2 separate regions of the Homo sapiens genome follow, and region 2 is linked to region 1. Evidence: fine-mapped expression QTL. Tissue or cell type: skeletal muscle. Region 1 holds a variant in brackets; the other region holds the start of a gene. All regions are shown on one strand. Distances are between the middles of the regions.

Region 1 (8,107 bases):
TACTGATGTTAAAATGCTTCCTATCTCTCAGATGCTCAGAGAACTGATTTCAAAATCACCTGGTTGGCACTAAATCAAGAAAGTGTCCTTGCAAACTTTGTTCCGAGTGTAATTTCCTAGGGATCCTATGGCCTCTTGAGAACAGCATTTTAGGGACATGGATCACTGCTCTCTATAGAGGTAGCTCAACTCAAGAGCATTTTACATGTAGGCTCCAGACAGCAAACATGTCAACACACTGACCTCTCTGCTCCAGGTGACTGTTTGCTACACTGGGGATTGCACAAGTCAGAGACTTCAATGCAACTGGCTTTGTGATGGGTGGCAGGTGTGATGTGGGTCAGAGGTGAGAGGACAGACAGAATGGCTGCATGGAAAAGCGAGCATTTGCTATTCTACAGAATTCCATAATGCACTGGTTAATGACACTAAAAGGAGAAATAATTTCACAAAATGTATCCCTGGTCCTGACACCACGTGGGGCGTGTTTTAACAAAGTGAGTTAATTGGGGTTGCAAATAGATCAAGAGCATAAAACATCTCTGACTCAAATGTATTTTTAGTTAATAAGAAAGAAGAGGGGCCCAGCACGGGGGTTCATGCCTGTAATCCCAGCACTTTGGGAGGCCCAGGCTGGTGGATCATCTGATTTCAGGAGTTCAAGACCAGCCTGGCCAACATGGTGAAACCCCGTCTCTACTAAAAATACAAAAAAAAAAATTAGCCGGGCATGGTGGCGGGTGCCTGTAATCCCAGCTACTTGGGAGGCTGAGGCAGGAGAATCGCTTGAACCTGGGAGGCCAAGGTTGCAGTGAGCTGAGATCGCTCCATTGTACTCCAGCCTGGGCGACAAGAGCGAAACTCCATCTGGGAAAAAAAAAAAAAAAAAAACCAAGAAAGAAGAAAACTTCCTTTTGATTATGCAATTTTAGTTCCCATTACATGTTCTTGGCTGCTGATTAGAAATTTAAATTCTAGAATTAAAAAATTCTAGAAGTAGGAGTTTCCAGAGCTGATTAATTTAACAGCTCAAGAGTATCTGGGGAAGCTTCTCTGTAAGTCTCTTAGCCTTTCCCTCATGACTGCAAGATGGCTGCCACAGCTCTGCCTATCACATCCGCACATGCAACATCCAAAGGCAGGAAGGAAGCACACTCACATATCTTCCTCTCATCAGAGAAAACAATCTTTCCCAGCAGCCCTCTGTCAGGCTTCCCCTTGTGTTTCATTGGCTTAGAAATGGGTCTCATACTCCTCCCAAAAATCAACACTCAGAGGAGACTGGTGTTAGCATGATCGCTTGAGAATAGGGTCAGCAAAGTTCTTCTGAAGAGGACCAGCCAGTAAATATTTCAGGCTTTGCAGGGCATGGGGTCCATGTCACATCTAGTCAGCTCTGCTCTTGTAGAGCCAAAGCAGCTAGAGACACTGGAAACAAATACATATGCCTGTGTTCCAATGTCACTGTGGACACTGAAATTTGAATTTCATATATTTTTTACCTCTTACAAAGCATTTTTTTTGGTTCTTTTTCCAGCGAATTAAAAGTGTAAAAAGCATTTTGTATGGTATGAGGCCATACAAACACAGGTGGTAGGCCAGATTTGGTTAGCAGGCTGTAGTTTGTCAATCCCTGGTTTAGAGCAATGAGGACTCATCCCCTTGGGGCTGTGGGAAGGGACCACCTTCCCTGAAACATCACCACTCACACCTGAAAAAAAGAAGGGTGAGGGAAGTGTTGTTAGGCAACTGAGAATGTCTCCTACAGCATATTAAGGTTATGGAAAAACGCTGAGGGTTATGATAATTTTTAAAAAGCAAATTACATGTCAATATGGGCAGGATGATCCCAACCAATTCTGCTTGTTGAAATCCCTGCCATTCACTGAAATCTATGTTAGACGCAGCCACCCGAGAGCACCTGTTTCTGATTCCTGGTTCTCAGAAGCCAAATTGGAGCATCCCTTCCTATCCATGACAAACTTCCCTTTAGCACCTATCCTGTGCTGGATGCTGTCAACCCAAACTAACTGCTGGAAATGCAGAAGTGAAAGAGCCAATGGCTAGCCTCAAAGAAATCACTGTCGCCGGGCGCGGTGGCTCACGCCTCTAATCCCCAGCACTTTGGGAGGCCAAGGCAGGTGGATCACAAGGTCAGGAGATCGAGACCATCCTGGCTAACACAGTGAAACCCCGTCTCTACTAAAAGTGCAAAAAAAATTAGCCAGGTGTGGTGGCGGGTGCCTGTAGTCCCAGCTACTTGGGAGGCTGAGGCAGGAGAATGGCGTGCACCCAGGAGGCAGAGCTTACAGTGAGCTGAGATCGCGCCACTGCACTCCAGCCTGGGTGACAGAGTGAGACTCAATCTCAAAAAAAAAAAAAGAAAAGAACAGAAATCATTGTCCAAGCAGAGGAGGAAGAAACCAGGAACTATAATTCAGGGGTGGGTATGCAGCAAGAGGCATGTGGGTAGGGGGGCATCCCTGGAGGGAATGAATGAGGGATGGAATAGAAGTTTCAGGGGAGGCCCACAGGAGACCTCTGTGCCAACATAAATGGCATCTGGCCCTTTGTTAAGAGGATGAATGTAGTTGGTGTATCATCTACTCCAGGGGCCAGGAGAGTTGCAACTAAGCCAGGCTCTTAGTTGTAATCAACAGAAGCACAGAAGAGATTGATTAAAAGGATTAAAAGGTTGTAGAGTGACTCTTCTGCTTGCTGGATGGGGAGGTGGAATGCCGTGAATAGCTTCCTGCACCAAGGCCCTATGCCCACTGCAGTCCTGGCCTGCAGTGGAAACCACTGCTGCTGCCCCCCTAGAGCTCTGGATGTGATGGTTTGTGATGCTGCCCCTTCTCATACCAGGGCCACAGCCCAGTATCCTTTGCTCCTCCAAAGCTGTGTGCCTGCGTTACCAGCTTTGCCCGGTACATCACTTACACACTGCGTCCACTGCCTTGGATTGCTTATCTCTAAGTTGGTATCTCATGTAGATGCAGCTGATGGAGGGAGGCTGGGTCATGTGCCTGTACCCTGCTCTGCATAGAAGCCTGGCTGACTGGGATCTCTGGCAACTGCCTTGGAGAGGTAGGACTCACTCGTGTGTTAGGAAATCCCCAGAACATAGCCGGGGTTTTCAAACAATGCTAGGCAGCCAAAAAACATGACACATGTCCACTCTGCATGGACCAAGCATCCCAGTCAGAGGAAACATGCAAAGGCACAGAGGTGTGAACCGGCAGAGCATGTTTGGGGAAATGGAAGCAGTTTGTTTCTGCAGAAGAGAGCAGTGAGTGTTGGGAGAGTTGCTTGGTGCAGCCAGCAGGAGCCCCTGCTAAACTCATGGTCCTTGTGGCTCCAACCTCAAGGGAAAATACTTTTTTTTTTGAGACAGAGTCTTGCTGTGCCACCCAGGCCTGAGTGCAGTGGCATGATCACAGCTCACTGCAGCCTCGAACTCCTGGGTCCAGGTTCATGTCCGTGTCCTGAATGGCTGGGACTACAGGCGTGCGCCACCACCCCCAGCTAATTTTTGTATTTTTCTGTAGAGATGGGTTTTTGCCATGTTGCCCAGGCTGCTCTTGAACTCCTGGTCTCAAGCAATCCTCTTGCTTTGGCCTCCCAAAGCACTGGGATTACAGTTGTGAGCTATCAAGCCCAGCAAGGGCAAGTACCTGTATCTTACTCAGTGTTCCCTGCTGAGGCCCAGGAGCTGTGATTAACTCCTTGCTGGGCCCAGGGCCCTGCCCCTGGTGAGTTTTAGTCAGTATCTGTCTAAAGGAATTATCTTTGTAAACTGTTGGATTGCATCATTGTTGTGAAATAGCAAGTGTATGCAGCTTCTCTCTCTTTCTCTTCTCTCTCTCCTTCTCTCTTGTGTGTACATTTCCACAATGTACTATTTTATAATTACATTAATAATGGTTCCCCCAGTAAAAATAATCTGGATTTAGACCGTTGGTATCTAAATATTTGTATGGCACCTATCACTAGATATTTAGCCATTTATAAACATCTTTTTAAAATGCTTTCATTAAATTAGTTATTCTGGGCAAACACAGGCAAATATAACCATTGAAAGGACACACAAATAAAGGTCCAGCAGAGTTGAGATGCCATTGCCTTAGAGATTAGCATGCAAGCTCTGG[A/G]TCAGACACCTGAGAGGGAAATCCTAGCCTCTCTGCTTCCAGCTGGATGAATCGGAAAAGTCTCTTGGGGTGGGAATGAGAGGAAAGATCTGGTTCTGCCAGTTGATGCTTTGAGTACCCCCTGCTCCATGCTGCTGCTTCTCAGCTTCATGCGATTGTACCTTTGAGGACTTCCATGGGCCACATTCTAACCTTTTTTAATTTTTTTAAGACACAAGGTCTTGCTCTGTCACCCAGGCTGGAGTGCTGTGGCGTGACCATAGCTCACTGCAGCCTTGAGCTCCGAGACTCAAATGATCCTCCCACCTCAGCCTCCTAAGTAGCTGAGACCACAGGCCTGTGCCACCCTGCCTGGCTAATTTTTAATTATTTTGTTTGTGTGTTTGTTTGTAGAGAAGGAGGTCTCACTATATTGACCAGGCTGTTCTCAAACTCATGGCCTCAAAACAATCCTCCCATCTAAACCTCCCAAAGTGCTGTGATTACAGGTGTGAGCCACCGTGCCCAGCACTAACCCTCTTATTTACAATGGGATTGTTTGCCTCACTGTGCCTAAATTTGTAAAACATGGCCAATTCTTAAATGCTCTGTCATTCAAAGTATTTAGTCAATCTCTCTGTTCCAATTAAGCACCAGAAATTTGGAGATGAAAAGCCGCACCTCATTTCGTTCACTGAGAATCACAAAGCCAGGCACAGGGGGCTGGGAGCAGTAGAGCATGGGCACAGAACCCAGCCCAGAGGACCAGGAAAGGTTCTAGAGCTTGGGGCAAGAGCTGAGCCTTGAAGTAGGAGTAGGAGTTAGGCAGGGAGGAAGAAGGAAACGCAGCATTGGATGGCAAGGAGGTGGGGGAAGGCATGGCCGTGTCTGGGAGCTGCAGGGGCTCCCGTCAGGGTGGGAGGAGAGGTAATGGGAAGGAGACTAGCGAAGGAGGCAGGGCTGATCTTGAGGGGTCTCACAGGCCCTGCTAAGAGAGTGCAGGATTTCTTTAGAGGATGGTAGAGGGAGCCGCTGAGTAATACAGACTTCCTGATGTGAACGTAGCTGTGTGGAGGAGGCTGACAGCATGGACTCTGGGTCGACTGTCCGGTCCTCAAAAGCTGGCTCTCCCACCTGATGACTTTGTGATAGTGAGAAGCTCCTGTAAGCCTCAAATTTCTCATCTTAAAAGTGAAAAATGGTGTTACTTGCCTCAGGAAATTTTGTGAAGATGAGAAAATACAAATAAAGCACTATTATAGTGTCTAATACTTAGTGGTCAATAAATGCTAACTATGGTTGTTATTGATCATTTGAATAATAATGAGGTATACAGTTTGTCTCATTTTGTAGACTTGTGATAATGGAATGAATGAACTTTGTCACAGCAAAATAAGTTTAAAATGTTAGTTGTGTATCCTGATAGAAAATATAAACTTAAAAAAATTTCTTCATGAGACAGAGGTCTCACTATGTTGCTCAGGCTGGTCTCCAACTCCTGGCCTCAAGCTAACCTCTCACCTCAGCCATTGTGCCTGGCTAATATAAACATTTGTTTATTCATTCCACAAATATTGATTGACCATGAAGGATGTACCAGGCACAGTTCCAGGCTCTTGGGATAAGGTAGTAAATGAGGCTGCCCCCTCGATGAGGGATCCCTACTCTCACTGAGCTTACATTCCAGCGGGGAGGCTGATGATGAAAAAGGAAACAATGTGATTCCCAAGACCTGTACGTTCCGCCAGGGCAGGGAACTTGTTGCATTTGTACCTTGATCTATCCCAAGTGCATGAGACAGGGCCTAGGTCAGGCACTTGATGAACGTGTTGAGTGAATGGAAGATTATTTCAGATAGTGCTGAGTGCCGGAAGACAAGGAAACAGCGCTACATGACAGAATGGGAAGGTCGACTTGGCTAGATGCGGTGCACGGCTGAGAAAGCACTGCTGAGCTGAAGTGGATGGTATGAAGGAATCAGTCATGGGACAGTCTTTGGGACAGCTATTCCAGGCCAAAGAATTTTCCATGCCTAAGCTGAAGGCCCTGAGGCAGGGCTGTGCTGGGAATGCACAAAGACGGGAATGAATGGACCCCACAGCACAGGGGCCAGTAATTTGTGGGTCATTGGCAGGCATGTCTTTTATCTAACAGGAGACTATTTTTGCCTCCAGAGGGCACTTGAACATAACAAATGCATCTAAGGGCCAGCTTGGGTTAACACTTAGACAGAAAGCAGTTTCCTGAAAGCATAACTTCAGAGGCCAGGAAAGCAAAAAGAAAATAATCTCAGCTGTAGCCTTTGCTTATTGAAATTTGAAAGCACCTCTTTTAAAAATTAACTTTTATGAGATAGTACAAGTGTTAGCTAGCAATGTGGGCTTTCATACATTAGTGTTAGTTTAACAACATAGCCCTCCCCTTGGTGGATAGATGAGAGAGCAGTTTGACAGGTAGGAGAGGGGACGAAAGGCTAATTTAGAGAGGTCTCGGCAAAGGTGTCAGGTCTGGGTGAGACCCAAAGCAAGGAGGCTCTGAGAAGCTAAAAGGCAACATAGAGAGGGGCCAAGGGACGGGGGAGAATGAGTACAAGAAGGCAAGAGGATGGGCTGGGGGAACCAGAGTACTCTCATGCACTTTAGAAATTGACCTGAGGACAGTTCTGCCTGGTCATATCTCTGTCGTCTCCAAAAGTCATGTGCTAAGCACTGTTTCAACATAGTTCTATGTCATATGCTGTGCAATACACACTAGTGTGACATGATCCTGGTCTTCCATGTACCTAAAATCCAAAGCAGTTTTACACATGAATATACTAAGAATGAGTCATCTTACGTGGAGGGGAAAGACAAGTACCTAGACAATCTAATTTGAAGGACACGAAACCACTTCGTCTTCAGTCCCATCTCCCGTAAGTCCTCCTGCTGTGGGCCTCTCCATGCTCCTCCCTCTTACTTTGTCCTTTGGCTTTGGGCACTAAAGCGCTTGTGAAGAAGCTAATGAAATCTAGGAAACTCATCCATCTGGGTGCAACCTCTCTGGGCCTCCACAGGCCTGGCACCTGTTGCATTGCCTATCTTGTTAGTTTACCTGCTCCACATCTGTGATCTCTGCTAGATCACCAGCCCCTTGAAGCAGGGAACAAGTCATACTCACCTGTGTGTTCCAAGGGGACTAAAGCTTCATTTTTCACATAGTGTTATACAGTTACACTAATATCATCTACCTATATATTATATAAACATGCACGTATGTTCATCTTTTGCTGTTGTTGTTTTTTTTGAGACAGGCTCTTGCTCTGTCACCCAGGCTGAAGTGCAGTGGCACTGCAGCCTCTGCCTCCTGGGCTCAAACAATCCTCCCACCTCAGCCTCCAGAGTAGGTGGGACTGCAAGCACACACCGGCATGCCCACCTAATTTGTTTATTGATTTGTATTTTTTGTGGAGATGAGGTTTCACCATGTTGCCCTGGTTAGTCTTGAGCTCTTGGGCTCCAGTAATCACCCACCTTGGCCTCCTAAAGTGCTGTTTTAGGCTGTGTTTGAGGCTGTTTTAGGCTGTGTTGTGAAGATGCAGAGGCAAAACAGCTCTTTTTTTTTTGAGATGGAGTCTCGCTCTGTCGCCCAGGCTGGAGCGCACTGGTGTGATCTCGGCTCACTGCAAGCTCTGCCTCCTGGGTTCATGCCATTCTCCTGCCTCAGCCTCCCGAGTAGCTGGGACTACAGGCGCCTGCCACCACGCCCGGCTAATTTTTTGTATTTTTAGTAGAGACGGGGTTTCACCATGTTAGCCAGGATGGTTTCAATCTTCTGACCTTGTGATCTACCTGCCTCGGCCTCCCAAAGTGCTGGGATTACAGGCGTGATCCCTGTTTTGTCGTGCCCGGCCTGACGAAACAGCTCTTAATCCACCTAAGAAAAAAGAAAGGAAATACCACATCCAGTATATACCACACACATCATCCCTCACCCAGATCAGG
Region 2 (8,107 bases), 150 kb before region 1:
GAAGCTGAGGCAAGAGAATCGCTTGAACCCTGGAGGTAGAGGTTGCAGTGAGCCGAGATCGCACCATTGCACTCCAGTCTGAGCGACAGAACGAGACTCTGCTTCAAAAATAATAATAATAAATAATAAATAAATAAATAAATGGAGCAGCTTATAGATGTCCTTCTACAATTGATACATATTTTTCTCTTTAGGATTATTTTCTTACAGTGTCTTCCTAAAATAGAATGACTGCTTTAAAGGTTGTGAACACATTTTAGAGAGCCTACCACTTATTGGGGTCTTAACTAAGGCTGCGTGCCCACGTGGGCAGAGGGGCACAGGGGCAGAGGGACAGAGGGCAGGCTTGCTCTCTGCCCCCAGGGCTCCACATTTCCCCCAGTCGTGGAGTCAGTGGTCTGTGGCTAGGCATTAAAAGAAAGGAAAGGCTCTTTCCAATGAGTATAAGCCATCTCTCCCCCGAAATGAATTGCTACTTTTACCGTGTTCCAAAATCCTGTGTGTATTTTGGTCTATTTCTAAACAGTGTCTTCTGTATTTCATATCTTTCAATTTCCATCATGACCATATACCCAATAACCAAAAGTTCTTTGAAAACATTTGATTTGCTGTAATATGCTATCAATATATATCACAATTTACCATCATTGCCTGATTTTTGAGCATTTGATTGTTTACCAACTTTTTAGTCTTTTTTAATTGAAAGTAATGTGACCTAAGCATCCTAATCAGATGTGGAACTGTGCAGTTATGCCTGGGCTTTGCAATTATCAACATGTTAGGCAGTGAGGACATTTGCAAGGTATGTTTTCTGCCCTTGAGGGATGTACAGTCTGTAGGACACAAATAGAAGCCTGGCATATGATAGCTGCTGGGATAGACAACCGTATAAGGGTTTCCTGTATCCAGGCTGGAGCAAGGAGAAACGTCATGTGGCTTATATATGGCAATAAATGAATAGACAAAAGGTTTTAATTTTTATGAAGTTCAGTGTATTTTTTTCTTTCATAGTTCATGGAATTTGCCTATTTAAGAAATCTTTTTTCCACAAACCAGATATTGATACTGATTATGAAATCTTTGCCTAACACAAAGTCACTAAGATTTTCTCCTATAATTTCTTCTAGAAGCTTCATAGTTTTGGTTCTTACATTTAGGTCTATGCTTTTTTTTTTTGAGACAGAGTCTCACTCTGCCGCCCAGGCTGGAGTGCAATGGCACAATCTCGGCTCACTGCAACCACTGACTCCTGGGTTCAAGCGATTCTCCTGCCTCAGCCTCCCGAGTAGCTGGGATTACAGGTGCCTGCCACCACGCCTGGCTAACTTTTGTATATTTTGTAGAGACAGGGTTTCACCATGTTGGCAAAGCTGGTCTTGAACTCCTGACCTCAGGTGATCCACCCGCCTTGGCCTCCCAAAGTGCTGGGATTACGGGCATGAGCCACCACGCCCAGCCATCCCCAGGATGTTTTTGCCAGGACCTCCCACCTTCTGAATCAGATGGTTCCTTTCAGTCCCAATCCTACTGGACCTCTGTAGTGCCCAACACTGTGGTCCATTACCTCTTTCTTCAGCTTCTCTCTTCCCCAGACTTTGTGACCCCATTGTGTCCCCATTGTCCTCCTAACTTTCAGATTGTCCTTCCCTGTTCTCTCACAGGCACTTTACCTTCTTCACATGACCACAGGAGGAACGACTAACACTAATTAATCATCAGTACTCCAGGTGCCTGCAGTTTCATGGTCAGCTGTGTTGGCAAAGAACTGTTCTGAAAGGAAATCTTTTTTGTTTTGTTTTTTTTGTTTGTTTTTTGGATCTTTTAGAAAAAGGTCTGCTTTCTCTGCAATAATTGTGTAGCAGTAATATTAAAAAGTGTCTCAAAAATAGACATATCATTGGAGTGGGTGAGTCTGGAGATTAGAGGAGAATTGCCATTTTGAAAAACCTAGCAGTTTGGCAGGTTTTCCTATTCATCTCAGCCTACTGAGATCTCCATGGTATCCTTTGAGTCAATTTCTTTTTTTACCATGCCCACTTATAAAAAATTATTGAGGTTCACATAACATAAAATTAATCATTTTAAAGTGAACAACTCAATGGCATTAATACATTTACAATGTCACCCAACCACTACCTCTAATTCCAAAACATTTCACTTACTTCAAGGTAATGAAACCCTTGTCCATTAAACTGTCTCCCAATTCTCCCCCTACCCTCAGCCTCTGGCAACTACTATTCTGAGTTATTTCACTATGGATGTATCTATTTTAGATCTTTCATATAAATGGAATCATACCATATGTAACTTTTCATATATTACTTCTTTTACTTAGCATAATGTTTTGGAGGTTTTTGAGTCACTTATTAACGCTGTATTTTGTTCTCACTTAATAGAAATCCCTGGTTGCCCCACCTGTCTGATGAAACTTTAGTAAATAATCAACAATAATGACAGACGTATTTAAACAGCAAGTTATATCTTAAGGATGGTGATGGACAATGTTAAACTAAAACTGGGACATTTCATCAAGTAAAAAACTACACAAAATCTCAAACCAAATTCCTCATTAGCAAGACGCTACCATAAGATGTCTGAAGAAAAAAGCAGGCAGAAGTGGGAAAAACTGACCACAGCCGAGGGCCAGCTGTGGAGGCCCTCAGACCTGGGAAGGGTAAACGGGGAAATCACATCCTCCCGTCTGTGTGCCCGGAGCACCTAAAACCTGGCTGAAAGAGTCCAGTCCAGCCTTACTGCAGTGATCAGGCAAGAAATGTAAACCCAGTGCTTGAAACCAGGCAGGTGCAGTCCAGACTCGCCCTCACTTCCCCACTGCCACTCTTAAAACCTTCTAGCCCTGACTTGTTTCGTTCTGTCATGTGGATTGAGTGTTTGTGTGGGTTTTATGAAGGTGGTATTTTTAGATGAGAAAAACGAAGATTATGGCGGCACACTTAACCACACAAACACAAAACGTCTGTAACAAATGCTATTTTATCTTCAAAGGAGAATTATATATAACCTTGAGGAGGGGATGAGGTTTATCTTCATTTTTTTCTGTTTCTCCTCCTCTCCTCCCTTTTTTGCATTTGATAATTGCTTAGAATAAAGGTATGGAAAGTAGATCCCAATTTCAGTTCCCCTTCACACGCTGTGCAAACGTGGACAAACAACCTCTGAACCTGTCACCTCTCAGTGGAAAAAGTGGTGATAACGTCCCACCTCAGAATTGATGCTCAAAATGAAGCAGTATTTGTGAAACGAAAATACACACGCTCGTGGTACGCCAGATCGGTGTTTACGTCCTCGTCAGTGAACGCGTCGATGTTTAATAAGAAGGGCAGCCAATCAACACTTTTCTTGTCTTTTTCTCGTCTGCCTTCCTCCAAGGACTGTGAGGGTCTCAAGATGTGTCCCATCTCGGTTGTTTGTCAACCTAGTCCTGCTATGTCGTGGGGACTGAGCAGGCCGACTCCTCCCCCATCGCACGTCCAGGATGAAGAGCGCTGTTTAGGTTTGAAACCTGCAGACTCAGTCCCAACCGAACTGGGCAGACACCAGACCGGCCCCGGCAACTGCAGTCCAGGCTCCGCCTCCCTACGCCCATTGGCTTATTCAATTCACGCAGGAACCAATGGGCGGAGACGGCAGCCGCGCCGTCTGACGGCTTAGCCGCGGTGCAGACTGCGGCGGCGGTGGTCTGAGGAAGTTCTATCTTGGCGCTAAAGCGGAGACGCATCCCCCGACCCGAGGCTACGATGAGCACACCGGCCGTGCCCCAGGACCTGCAGCTGCCCCCGAGTCAGAGGGCGCAGTCCGCATTCAAAGGTGAAGGCCGCGGTGGCGGTGGCGGTGGCGGTGGCGGTGGCGGTGGCGGGCGCGGGCCCGGCGGTCGGGGCTCGGGGCCGCGCTGGCGCGCTTCACCTCTCCCCCGCTCTGTGAGATCCCTGAACGCGGCGTCGGCCTCGCCCTGCCTCATTCTTGGCCTTGTGGAACGGATCATAAAAACAGGAACCGCTGCGTGGTGTTACTGTGCGGTCGCTGCTGGCTGGGATGGGCCCTCCTAAGAAGGAATCCGTTAGGCGAGGGGAAACGCGCGGGCCTCAGGCCGGGGTCGGTGTCGGAGACCCTGGGTCCGCTTGGGGGCGGGGCTGCACAGGTTCAGGGACCGACTGCGCCTGCGCTGGGTCCTCCGCCTCTTAGGTCCCTAGCGAATTTCTGCAGGGCTGGGGTCGCATCATGTGTTATTTCCAATTTCACAGCTTCTCCTTCGACTTTATGGAAACCGAGGGTTGGTTGGGTCTTCAAAACTAATATTGTTATTCCCTTATTCTACACACGGGAAAGCAGAAGAAAGTAATTCTCATCTAACCCAGTTCTGGTAAATTAGAACTTTCGAGTCTAGTGCCTCACTTCTACCATTTAGTTTCTTAAAGCTTGGCTAGCAGGAGCTGTATGTAGAAAATGATGTTCTCCAGATTTTTCACAGGGAGTAGAGAATGTGATTCTTATGCAGAGGGGTTTTGGGGACCTGTTGTGGTAACAGTCTCTTCTAAGGTGATTTCTCAAAGGCAATATTGAATTGGAGAATTTTCTGTTATATAGATGTGACCTCAGGTGGAACCAGCTTTGGAAGTAAACTCTTCATTTAGTCAACAAGATTTATTTGCCGTTATCGATGTTTTAACTAATATTGACTTGTAGCTCTTACCTTTGTTATCTAGAGCAAAGAAGACAAAAACTCAAGGAACATCTGTTGAGAAGAAAAACGCTTTTTGCATACAAGCAGGAAAATGAGATGTTATCCAGGTAAGGTCAAGTTTATTTCTTTTCACTTCTGTAAAATTGTATCAGATCTGTCCAATGAAAATGTAAAGTAAGCCATATCTGTAATTTTAAATTTTCTAGTAGCCACATTTAGAAAAACTGCTTACATATTATTTTACGTCTTTTTGTGGTACAACGTCTTTAAAATCTGGTGTCTATTTTACAGTTACAGGACATTTCCATTTGGTCTATCCACATTTCAAGCACTCAGTAGCCACATTGGCTAGTGGCTACTTTATTGGATGGTGCAGCATTAGATCATCGTTTTATTAATTTTTTTTTTTTTGAGACAGAGTCTCACTCTGTTGCCAGGTTGGAGTGCAGTAGCGTGATCTTGGCTCACTGCAGCCTCCACCTTCTGGGTTCAAGTGAATCTCCTGCCTCAGCTTCCCAAATACCTGGGACTGACTACAGGCAAGTGCCACCATTCCCTGCTAATTTTTGTATTTTAAACAGAGACCGGGTTTCACTATGTTGGCCGGGCTGGTCTTGGACTCCTGACCTTGAGATCCGCCCACCTCAGCCTCTGAAAGTGCTGTGATTACAAGGATGAGCCACCGCGCCCGGCCTAGATTATCGTTTTCTACGTAAATTAATTCACAGTCTAAGAGAAAAAAACAATTATAAAGCAAAGTATGTGCATAGACTAGATTATCAACTTACTGTTTACACCACACAAAGGTCAGTCTTTCTATTATTTAGCAAAGCTTTTTACTCAGTGTATGGGGGAGTTCATCAGGGAAGGGTTGGGTGGCCCTCCCAAATGCTTAGAGATTACTAGTTGTAGTCTCAACCCTCCACAGAAATATCTTTATTATTTTGTTAAAATATCTTAGATAGTACATAGCTGTAGCAAAAACAAAAACCCATGAAAGTAGATGAAGCAGAAAGGCAAAAGGTCCCCTCACTCTCTAGGGATAACCAGTAATAACATCCTTACAGGCTTAGGCTGGGTGCTGTGGCTTACACCTGTAATCCCAGCACTTTAGGAGGCTGAGGTGGGCAGATCACGAGGTCAGGAGATCAAGACCAGCCTGGCTAACACAGTGAAACCCCGTCTCTACTAAAAATACAAAAAATTAGCCAGGCATGGTGGTGGGTGCTTGTAATCCCAGCTACTGGGGAGGCTGAGGCAGGAGAATCGCTTGAACCTGGGAGATGGAGGTTGCAGTGAGCCGAGATCGTGCCATTGCACTCCAGCCTGGGTGACAGAGCGAGACTCCGTCTCAAAAAAAAAAAAAATTGTCTCAGGTAAACAAAATTGTATATACCACCCACACACATATTCAGAGAGTGGAAATGATAACGCAAATGGGATAAAAATTTTAACAATAGGTGGATCCTGGGTAAAGAGTGTACAGATATTCTTTGACCTGTTTATATTTTTGCAACTTTGTGTAAGTTTGGCATTCTAAAATTTTAAAAATAATTTCTAACTTTATATTAATAAGTTGCTTTAGTTTGGAATAAACAGTTTATCCTTCACAAATAAATCTTTTATTTCTTTGTTTAAGACAAAAAGGTGATCCTAGGTTTTTTATTTGAATAAGTAAATGAATGGTGATAACCGTATACTGAAATAGGAAGCCTGAAGGAGGAGCTGGGGAATTAGGAGTTCTGTTTTGACTATGTTTGAGGTACCAACCAGACATCCAAGCAGATATGCCAAATAATTGTGTGTCTGAAGTTCAGGGGAGGGGTTGGGGCTGGAAGCATAAACTCAGGAATTGATTAGTATACAGATGATATTTACTTAAAAACCTTAGGATGGAATGAAATTACTAGGGAATAAGTAGAGATAATATGGATTCAGACAGTGACTCTCAACCACTTATTTAAATAAAGAATCCAACAAGGTCAGGGGTTTATAATACTCTTAATAGGAAGAAAAGAAAATTCTAAAACGCTTCATGTGGCTTAAGTACTACATTTATTCCTTTCAGAAAACAGATGTTGGCTGGGTGCAGTGGCTCATGCCTGTAATCCCAGCACTTTGGGAGGCTGAGGCGGGTGTATCACTTGAGGTCAAGAGTTCTAGACCAGCCTGGCCAACATGGTGAAACCCCGTCTCTACTAAAAATATAAAAATTAGCCGGGTGTGGTGTCAGGCGCCTGTAATTCCGGGGAGGGCCGAGGCAGAAGAATCGCTTGAACCTGGGAGGCGGAGGTTGCAGTGAGCCAAGATCAGGCCATCGCACTCCAGCCTGGGTGACAAGAGCGAGACTTTGTCTCAAAAAAAAAAAAAAGGAAAACAGATGTCAATTTAAATGTTATCACCTCAGCAGTGAATCATTAAATAAGACAACCAACCTGTGTTGCAGCTTTTCAGAATTAAACAGTTATATTTTACAATCTCTAAAGTATAGATATCCTAAGACTCATTTCCGATAACCCTTCTGAGGGCAGTTTTATAATAAGACAGAATAGGATTAAGTCTCCCCACTGGACAGGTGAGTAAGATGGGTTCTTCTTGTCATCCTGAGTTTTGTTTTGTTAGCTGGCAGTTAGCTACTAAGATACCCTGTTAAGTGGCACATTTTGATCTTCCTTCACCATTGTTCAAAATGTATAGTACAGGTTGTGTCAAAGTTCTGTTCCTTCTCCAAGCTGACAGAACAAATAGATATGAAAGGCAATGTAAGCAAAATTATTAACTACTAAATTATGTCAAATGTAAAATATATATATATATATTTTGTTTTGTTTTGTTTTTTTGAGACGGAGCCTTGCTCTGTCGCCTAGGCTATAGTGCAGTGGCGCGATCTCAGCTCACTGCAACCTCTGCCTCGTGGGTTCAAGCGATTCTCCTGCCTCAGCCTCCAGGGTAGCTGGGATTACAAGCATTTGCCACCATGCCTGGCCAATATTTTTGATTTTAGTAGAGACAGGGTTTCGCCGTGTTGGCCAGGCTGGTCTCAAACTCCTGACCTGAGGTGATCTGCCCACCTTCTCTACCCAGAGTGCTAGGATTACAGGTGTGACCCACTGTTCCTGGCCTCATTTTTTTTTTCAGAGAATGAGAGATCACGCATTTTAATGTGATCTCTGAACTTAGGATCTGTCTTAAAATCAATGGCATGTCTAATTGACCGTATTTTTTCCTATCGTTATAGTACACAAAATTGTTAAAATCACTTGCTAAGAGATGCTCACAGTCTGCCTTAGCCAGTTTATAGCTGTAAAAATAAGTTAAGTCAGTTTCTTGAGGAGGGATTTTCTTTGCAATACCGCCTAGAAACTAACGTTCTTTTTTTTGAGAGATGATCTCATTCTGTGTCAC

Which allele goes with the higher level. Positions count from the first base shown, and alleles are read on the strand shown. Sizes are in standard deviations (SD) of each study's normalised expression.
In carriers of allele A in region 1, the expression in skeletal muscle of the gene that starts at base 3,548 in region 2 tends to be higher than with G alone (moderate effect, 0.44 SD a copy in GTEx).

What was found. PIP is the estimated chance that this variant, and not a neighbour inherited with it, causes the effect.
Region 2: it holds the start of CKAP2-DT, and the variant in region 1 is fine-mapped to the expression of CKAP2-DT in skeletal muscle (GTEx, PIP above 0.99).

The regions. Positions count from the first base shown.
Region 1 is chr13:52,603,220-52,611,326 of GRCh38, forward strand. No RefSeq gene overlaps it. Among named protein-coding and RNA genes, the nearest start is that of LINC00345, 6.9 kb to the left of the region's middle. The variant A/G (reference allele first, on the strand shown) is at 4,149.
Region 2 is chr13:52,451,799-52,459,905 of GRCh38, forward strand. It overlaps CKAP2-DT (CKAP2 divergent transcript), which reads right to left and starts at 3,548. Exons shown (of 1, transcript NR_185890.1): 1 at 2,977-3,548. It overlaps CKAP2 (cytoskeleton associated protein 2), which reads left to right and starts at 3,680. Exons shown (of 9, transcript NM_018204.5): 1 at 3,680-3,828; 2 at 4,725-4,809. The coding sequence starts at 3,759. RefSeq lists enhancers at 2,831-3,010, 3,301-3,380.